Linked DNA regions of Homo sapiens: region 2 is linked to region 1. Evidence: fine-mapped expression QTL. Tissue or cell type: T cells. Region 1 holds a variant in brackets; the other region holds the start of a gene. All regions are shown on one strand. Distances are from middle to middle.

Region 1 (4,262 bases):
CTCTCTGGAATGAAAAATAAAATACAAGTAGTTGTGCTTGAAAACGAAGGGCTCCAGCAACAGCTAAAATCTCAAAGACAAGAGGAGACACTGAGGGAACAAACACTTCTGGATGCATCCGTGAGCATTATTTTAAATCATAAATTTTATTTTAGTGTGAATATTCCCTTCTGCCCTCTCTCCTCGCCTTCTTCGCTGCTTAGATTTTCTCCCTGAAGTGTGGCCAAAGTACTATGTTGGTATTTGTTTGAGACCTCAAATATCAAACTTCACTGTGGTGGAATGAATCCTCAGATGAAACGATCTTGTGATATTTTGCTACAGTTTCCTCTCTGAGCATACCGTTTCTGCCTTACCATATGGAAAGAGCCGGTCTGAAAGCAGGAAGTGTGTTATACAGGAAGGACTTTGCTAAGTCTAGAAACCGTTCAGAACTTTAACTTAGATTTCTGTTGGATTTCTCTAAATTTTCCTTGAGGTCTGAAATCTAATAAGTCTAATTAGCTGCATGATGTAGCAGAAAAAATGTTGGCCTTAGGATCCAAGAATCAAAATGTTAGTCTTCCCATTTCCCTAAGAAGGCTGGTGTTTAGCAAGTAATTTTAGAAGGTTTTACATAGCTTAATCACGTATGTCCTTTATTTCTTTATTGGTAATTTGAGAAGATTAACCTATACCAGGAGTTTTCAGTGCAAATTCCTGGACTCCATCCCCTGTGAGTCTGATTCACTTGGTCTGGTTGGCTTCTAGGAATCTAAACTTTCATCAAGTTGCCTAAGTGATTCTAATGTCAGTGGCCCAGAGTTTGAAGAACGTTGGGTCAGATTATCTCTATAATTCTGTGACAGAGAATTATTGTGGTGACATTTAAATAGTGCTTAAATCTTATGACTTATCAGAGTACTTTTGTCTTAAACTTTTTGTAACTGTTTTGCTATAAGATATAGTCACAGCTTGTTCTGCTTTTTGGGACAAATTCAACTTTCCATGTGGAAGTTTTCATACTTGCCTATTCCAGCTTCACTTTGCAGTTTACTTTGGTGGTTTTGACTTTGTCGTCATTAGTAAATCAGCTGTTAAGAAAACATGAAAGTCTTGATGTTTCATTGGGATATCCTCTAATTTTCGTTTTTGAAGTTTTTTTTTTTTTTAACTTGAATTGATAGTTGGTTTATAATCCTGGAGTTGTATATGTTAGGGTTTGCTATTGAGAAGTATAGGAGTGTATTAACTCTGATAAATGAAGTGGGCTAATTAGTATTTCAGTTTAATTTTCTGCAATTGCATTTAAGTTTGTGATCAGTTCTTTTCTCCTCACTGTATAACTTTTTCCTGAAGATTTGTATAATTATTAGTGGTAAAAACTCCATCTTAGTTGCTTATGATTTTAATGTCAATTTGAGGAAGATATCACCATATAGAAAATACTTAGAAGTAGCTTATTTTAAAAATATTCATTTGCTTTTCTTCCAAACACGTGGTCACTTAGCAAGCAGTGATTCAATTATTCATAGTCCTCAGTATTTATGTAATGCCAAAGAAGTGGAAGAAGGGGAAGTGAAGTGAGAAAGGAAATTAGGCAGACAAGTGAATCAGAGGGCAAGAGAAATGAGTAATGCAAAAGGGGAAGGAAATGATGGTCAGAGCACACATGCCTTGCAGCATGAGCAAAGAAAATGTGCTAAACAAAACTACAGTCAGAATCATAGAAAGGATAAGGTTTTAGAGAGGTTTTGTTGTTTTTTAAACATTCATGTGAGCTAAATATAATGCAGGTATTGAAATGATTACTGCAGATATGCCAGATGACCTTGATATCTATTTTAATGTTAATCTTCTGTTATTTGTTGTTGTTGAATTGTTACCCCCACGTTTTACCTGTGTAAGTGAATTGAAATATTTCAAGGCCAGATACAGTGTCTTACGCATGTAATTTCAGCAGTTTGGAAGGATGATCACACGAACGGATGGATCACTTGAGCCCAAGAGTTCCAGACAAGCCTGGGCAACATAGTGAGACCCCATCTCTCTAAAAATAAAAAAAAAATTAGCCGAGCATGCTGATGTACACCTGTGGTCCCAACTACTTTGGAGACTGAGGTCAGAGGATCCCAGGAGGTCAAGGCTGCAGTAAGCCCTGATCACGCCACTGCACTCCAGCCTGGGCAACAGAGTGAGACCTTGCCTCAATAAAAACAAGACAAACAAAAAACCAGACATTTCAATAATACATGCATGGTGCTGTGTTACAAGTTGTAACATGAATAAAAATGTTTAGGATATCTTAAATATAAAAAATCAAGAAATATCTTCTTTTGGGGGGAAGGGGTTTTTGTAATGAGTCAATTAAAATGTTGGTGCTAAATCTTCCCTTGCTATATTGAAGTTTGCTGATTTCAATATAGATTTTCAGTGTTTCATAATGCCTTTTAA[G/A]AAAGATAATTGAGGTGGCCAGGCGCAGTGGCTCACGCCTGTAATCCCAACACTTTGGGAGACCAAGGTGGGTGGATCACGAGGTCAGGAAATAGAGACCATCCTGGCTAACATGGTGAAACCCAACTCTACTAAAAATACAAAAAATTAGCCGGGCGTGGTGGTGGGCACCTGTAGTCCCAGCTACTTGGGAGGCTGAGGCAGGAGAATGGTGTGAACCCAGGAGGCAGAGCTTGCAGTGAGCTGAGACTGCGCCACTGCACTCTGGCCTGGGCGACAGAGCAAGACTCCATCTCAAAAAAAAAAAAAAAAGATAATTGAAACATTTATATGGTGTATTAGGTTCTCTCAAAGGACAGAACTAATATGATATAATATATATATATGAAGGGGGTTTATTAAGTAGTATTAACTTATTAACTGACACAATCACAAGGTCCCACAACAGGCCATCTGCAAGCTGAGGAGCAAGGAAGCCAGTCTGAGTCCCAAAGCTGAAGAACCCGCTGTCTGAGGTACAAGAACAGGAAGCATCTAGCACAGGAGAAAGATGTAGGCTGGGAGGCTAAGCCAGTCTAACCTTTTCATGTTTTTCTGCCTGCTTTATATTCGCTGGCAGCTGATTAGATGGTGCCCACCCAGATTAAGGGTGGGTCTGCCTTCCCCAGCCCACTGACTCAAATGTTAATCTCTTTTAGCAACATCCTCACAGACACACCCAGGATCAATCCTTTGCATCCTTCAATCCAGTTAAGTTGACACTCAGTATTAACCATCTCATATAGTAATAACTAACATTTATTGATGACTACATGGTTATAATGTGCGAGGCACTGTGTCAAACTATTTACGTTATATTACTTCAGATTTGCAGTACCCACACAAGGCAGGTGTTATTATCTCTGTTTTCAGAGGAGTAAATTAAGGTACACAGCTGTTAAGTAACCTAAGTAATTGGCCTAATGTCACAGAGCTAGATAATGGCAAAGCAAGGATTCAAACCCAGGACTATCTAATTCTCTAAATACACCCCGTAGAACCTTAAATTATACCGCCTTTCTGCATAAGTTAGGAAGAGCTTGTCGACATTGAACCAAACCATCTTTGTTTGCAGAGGATAGAAGTTTTCCCTGGCAGAAAAGAGAAGAATCTCCTTTTTATTGTCTCCTGCTTGTAGCCCTGGACTTTGATGGTAGCCTGTAAGACTTTCAACTTTTGGTCTAGTTTATGACCTAGAAGTTAAAGAAGCAAGCCATTCAAAGTATATTTCATTCCTGTCCTGATTTTTCATCACTTTGCCTTCTCATAAAATATTTCCTCATGGAAAGCTTTTCTCTAGAGTTCACAAAATCAAAATAATACGAAAACATGTTATTTATTCAACATTTTGTCATGTGTCCTTCTTTAAAGATCCAGGAGTTTTTTCTTAAGGAGAAAATTTCTCGGCCAATATTTTTCACGTTTGTTTTCATCCCCTGTCTTACCACCGCTCCCGCCCCCCGATCCCCTGCCACCCAATTAAGAAATCAAAGGTTTTGAATGATCTTCAAGGATTTAACATACTTAGGTTTTTAAAAACATCTTGGTTAAGTAGCATTCAAGTTTTTTAAAACTATCTGTGAAAGAACAAAATGTCCGTTAGACTAGCAATTCTTTCCAAAGAATGATAATATTTTATATCATAAGTTAGTGATCTGTGGTCTACATGCTCCCTCCAATTTCTCCATAGAAAATTAGTACCACCCTCCTTCATTGATCTCAAAAACAACTTTAAATGCAATCATATCTTAGGGGATTTGACTCTACCGAGAGAATCAAGTGCAGACTCA
Region 2 (4,262 bases), 32 kb before region 1:
AGCCACTCTCTCCTCCCCCGGGTTTACTACAGAGCCAGAGCCTCCACGGGGTGCAGTCGCCAGGCAGGGTGCATGACACCGCGTCTTCCACGCCCTCCCAACGCGTCCAAAAGGTTGCTCGCCTGACCTCGCCAACCGCCTCACACCCCAAAACCAATCACACAAAAGGGATTGGCCCGGGGAGCTGCTCCAATGGGGGAAAAATCCCTTCCCCAGCGGCAGCGCAGCCATTCCCTCCAATGCTCCGCCCGCACCCCTCGCAAACTGCTACGGCGGAGGGGGGAGGGCTGCACAAAGCCAGTCGAAAGCTGAAAATGATTCAATGCACTTAGGGGATGCGGAGGCGGCAGCAAGGGGCTCGGGAAAGCCGGGGGGCCGCAGGACTGGAGCTCCGGGGGGCGGCGGGTGGGGGATGGGAAGGGTGGTCCCGTCAAGCCCCGGGTCCCAGGCGGGCAGAGGGTGGGGGTGGCGGCGCCGCGCGGAGCACCCGGGAAGCGCCCCCTTCGCGGTCCAGCCCCGCACCCCCGCCCCGCGGCGGGCGGCGCCCGAGTCCTCGCCGCAAACCCGAGGAGCAGGATGTGGAAAGCAGCCGCGGCGGTGGCTGCGGCTGCGGCGCCTACACCGAGCAGCCGATCGCATCACTTACCCCTTACCGTGGAGAGAGGGACCGGACGGGGGAGGCGGGGCGCGTCGCGTCCCGTGAGTCTCTCGCACGCCGTCCTCCCCCCACCTCGTCGTCGTCGTCGTCGCCGCTGTTGTCGTCGCTGCCGCTGCGGTCGAGCTCCGGGGCCCTCAGCTCCGCTGGGCAATAACGTTATTCCACACACGCCCCACACATAGCGGTAACGGCAAAGACCGACTGCCTAGTGCGCAGGCGCCTCGGGAAAGGGCGAGGAGCCGGACCCTATCCCCTCCTGCCCAGTTCCAACGATCCCTTACTGCGCAGGCGCCACACACAGACAATGAAAAGGGGTTGTGCGAGGGTCTCACCCACACGCTTTTCCAGCTTGCCCACTGCGCAGGCGTGCCCCGAAAGACCAGCTTGAACAATGAAGAGGACCTCGGCGTTAGGTGGGACCGCAACCAACAAGGACTACAGTTCCCAGCGGGCAGAGCGCCAACTCCAAGTGAAGGTCCGGTTGCTGGGCATGCTAGGAGTTGTAGTGTCGGCCGCCTTTACAATCTAGGCTGTTTGGAAGATTTAGAGCTTCTATTTCTTGAAGATTTATTCGACCGTTTTAAAAAATCTCGCAACTGAAGCAGGGTTCAGAGTTTACTATCTGCGTCCTTGAGTAGCCTGGGGATCAACTGCTGCATATTAGCAAATTTCGAAGCGTCAAGGCCTTCAGTGAGCCCTTTCTGTCATTTGGGTGGTCCAGGCAGCTGAAGAGTGGGATGGAGGCGGGACTAAACCAGGCTGGGCTGGAGGAAAAGGGCGGGGCCTGCAAGCCTGTCTCTTGGCAGCAGGCTCTGGCAGCCAAACCGTCCAAGCTAGCGCCTGGAGCGCAGTGGTTTCTGGGAATTGTAGTGTAACTGGAAGGCCCTGAGGATTGTCGAGCTTGCAGGTTCTGAACGTGAGGACTACAACTCCCGACGTGCAAAGCGAGGGCCAGTGGGTGGGAAGAGCCCCCAAGAGCTCTGTGCGGGATTCTAGGCTCCCCTGTGACAGCCGCGGCAGGAAGCAGGCGGGCGCTCCCCGGCCACAGGCCTGTTGTTCTCGGAAGGGAGAAAGCTGGACATTTCCCCACGTAACTCCCAGCTCTGGGCCTAGAGTGCGTGCATGGCGAAGTCCCCGGAGAACTCTACCCTGGAGGAGATTCTGGGGCAGTATCAACGGAGTCTCCGGGGTGAGTTGCTCCAAACCTCTGTCCCTAGCCCCGAGGTGCCCAGGGCCTAGTGGGCGGGAGCAGACCAGGTGCGTTTCCTAACACCTGGGTTCTGCCCCGTCCACGCTACAGAGGAGCAAGATGGATGTTGCTGTGGTCTTGAGGAGGATGAAATAGTTTGATTTAGTTTTTACAGTTAAGCAACGATGTTTCCTCAGATTCCCGTAGTTACCTCAATCAACTCCTTGATCTTAACTTGGCATCTTTCTCAACCGGCGACAGCAGAAACTCTTGGATAGCTCTATGCCATTTTTGTTCAGTTCCCATACGTTGCTATTTAATCCAATAAAAGTCTGATTCACAGTTTTTACACATTTAAATTATGGCACAGTGGATTGAATGTGATTTATGGGATCAGTGGGGGGAAACACTAATAATTATTTTAATCACAAGAGCCCCCTTTTAATTGATTTAGGCTATTTACATACAGTAAATCATCTGCAGCTTACACCAATCGTGTGAATATTTTACACATGGGGAAAGCGAAGCTCAGAGAGGTTGAATTACAGGCCAGAGCCCACACAGCTGGTTAGTTGCAGAGCCAGGTATTATCAGGCTTGCCTTCAAAGCCTATGTTTGTATTTACTAATCAAGCCATAATTACTATTATCAAAACCTTATTAATTTAGATTTTCTTACCACATTACCATATGAGCAAGTATCTGTACAAATAATGTCTGTATTTATTTTCCTTTAAGCTCTGTTGGACTTAATGTCTGTACTTTTAGATGGCGCTGTCAACTTGGACAGCATATATAACATCTAGAAATTTCGATTCTGTTATAATGGAAGTTATGGAATTGTCCATAGGGTTATTGTGGGGAGCAAATGAAATAATCCCCATAAAGCAGTGATTTTAAGACTTCTTAAAATGTTTACCTATAGTAAGAAATAAATTTTATATGGGACATATGTGTACATATAAACTATAAGTTTCACTGAAGAATTTTTATTCTACTAAATGTAATAAACTCTGCTTTCTATTCTGTTGCATTTTCATAAGCCTCTAGGTCATGACTGTTTGCGACATTGAGAATACTAAGTTATGAAGCATGTGTTGTTCTGCATAATATGCCTACTATGTGTCAGTGCCTCCTACTATGTGTTAAGCATACTAGGTGCTAGGCATGCAGTAAGGAACAAGACAAAGTTCCTATCCCCATGGAGCTTCTGGATTAGTTGGGGAGAAAGACAAAAAAAAAAAATAATTATAGATTACTATGATAGAAAGTAAGGGTAAAGATCAGTGCTTACTAGACAAGCACTCATTAAATGTTAATTGTTATTTATACTTGTTACTTAAAGCAAAGTGAAGGTTTTTCAATATTAGAAAGTTTATCTTCTCATGACTCTAGATTTTATAAGGGTTACTATGTATTGTTACATCTGTCAATTGTGTTAACAAACTGTCGACATTCTCAGTATTCAAACTGCAGGAGTAAAAAAATCGGTTTTAATGAACACCTTCCTCAACCTACTGATGTTTCAAGAGCTGTTAGATACAAAATAAGCACTTCTAACTTTTCATTTGGAAGCAAGAAAAATACTGTGCACAATGATATGAGTAATTGTAATTTTTAAGATTGGCAAAAATTTTTTGTTTTCATTGAAAGTTTTTCCTGATGCTTCTCTTCCTTTGACCTTATTTTAAGTCTTTATATAATTGTCGGAGGCTGTTTAACATTAGGCATTTTGACGCAGTAAAGGGGTTCATTTTAAATTAATGTTATAGTAATATGTTTAATACTAGTGGTACTGCTTTCAATAATTACAGAATGAAGGGTTTTCATTTAAGGATAATACATTTTAAAATTAGTTTGAAATAAAATTTAAATTTAGTGTGATAACAATATAAGGTAGTGGAAACATTTCACCAAGAGCAAATACGAAGGATAGAAAAAGTTAAACAACTTAAAAAAAAACGTATTCATAATTTTAACAGTGAATCAGGAAATGTAACCTGAAATGTTTATGGGTTTTTCAGGACATATCATTTATTTAGTAGCACTTTTATTTTTGTATGTTAGCTTATATAACAGCTTCTGGAAGGAAACAAAACAGAATTAACTCTGAACTTAAGTACAGTCAGAAGTTCTTCACAAATATAAATTGCTATTTTTGAGTAGTATAATTTATTTATTTAGAGATGGAGTCTCACTCTGTCATCCAGGCTGAAATGCAGTGGTGCCATCTCGGCTCACTGCAGCCTCTGCCTCCTGGATTCAAGCAACTCTCCAGCCTCAGCCTCCCAAGTAGCTGGGATTACAGGCACGCGCCACCATGCCCGGCTAATTTTTGTATTTTTAGTAGAGACTGGGTTTCGCCATGTTGGTCAGGCTGCTCTAGAACTCCTGACCTTAAGTGATCCGCCCACTT

The links. PIP is the estimated chance that this variant, and not a neighbour inherited with it, causes the effect.
Region 2: SDCCAG8 starts here. The variant in region 1 is the best candidate, but not a certain one, in a credible set for the expression of SDCCAG8 in T cells (TOPMed, PIP 0.56).

The regions. Positions count from the first base shown.
Region 1 is chr1:243,286,278-243,290,539 of GRCh38, forward strand. It overlaps SDCCAG8 (SHH signaling and ciliogenesis regulator SDCCAG8), which reads left to right. Exons shown (of 18, transcript NM_006642.5): 5 at 1-120. Among named protein-coding and RNA genes, the nearest start is that of SDCCAG8, 32 kb to the left of the region's middle. The variant G/A (reference allele first, on the strand shown) is at 2,434.
Region 2 is chr1:243,254,394-243,258,655 of GRCh38, forward strand. SDCCAG8 (SHH signaling and ciliogenesis regulator SDCCAG8) reads left to right here and starts at 1,648. Exons shown (of 18, transcript NM_006642.5): 1 at 1,648-1,847. The coding sequence starts at 1,781. CEP170 (centrosomal protein 170) reads right to left here and starts at 888. Exons shown (of 20, transcript NM_014812.3): 1 at 647-888.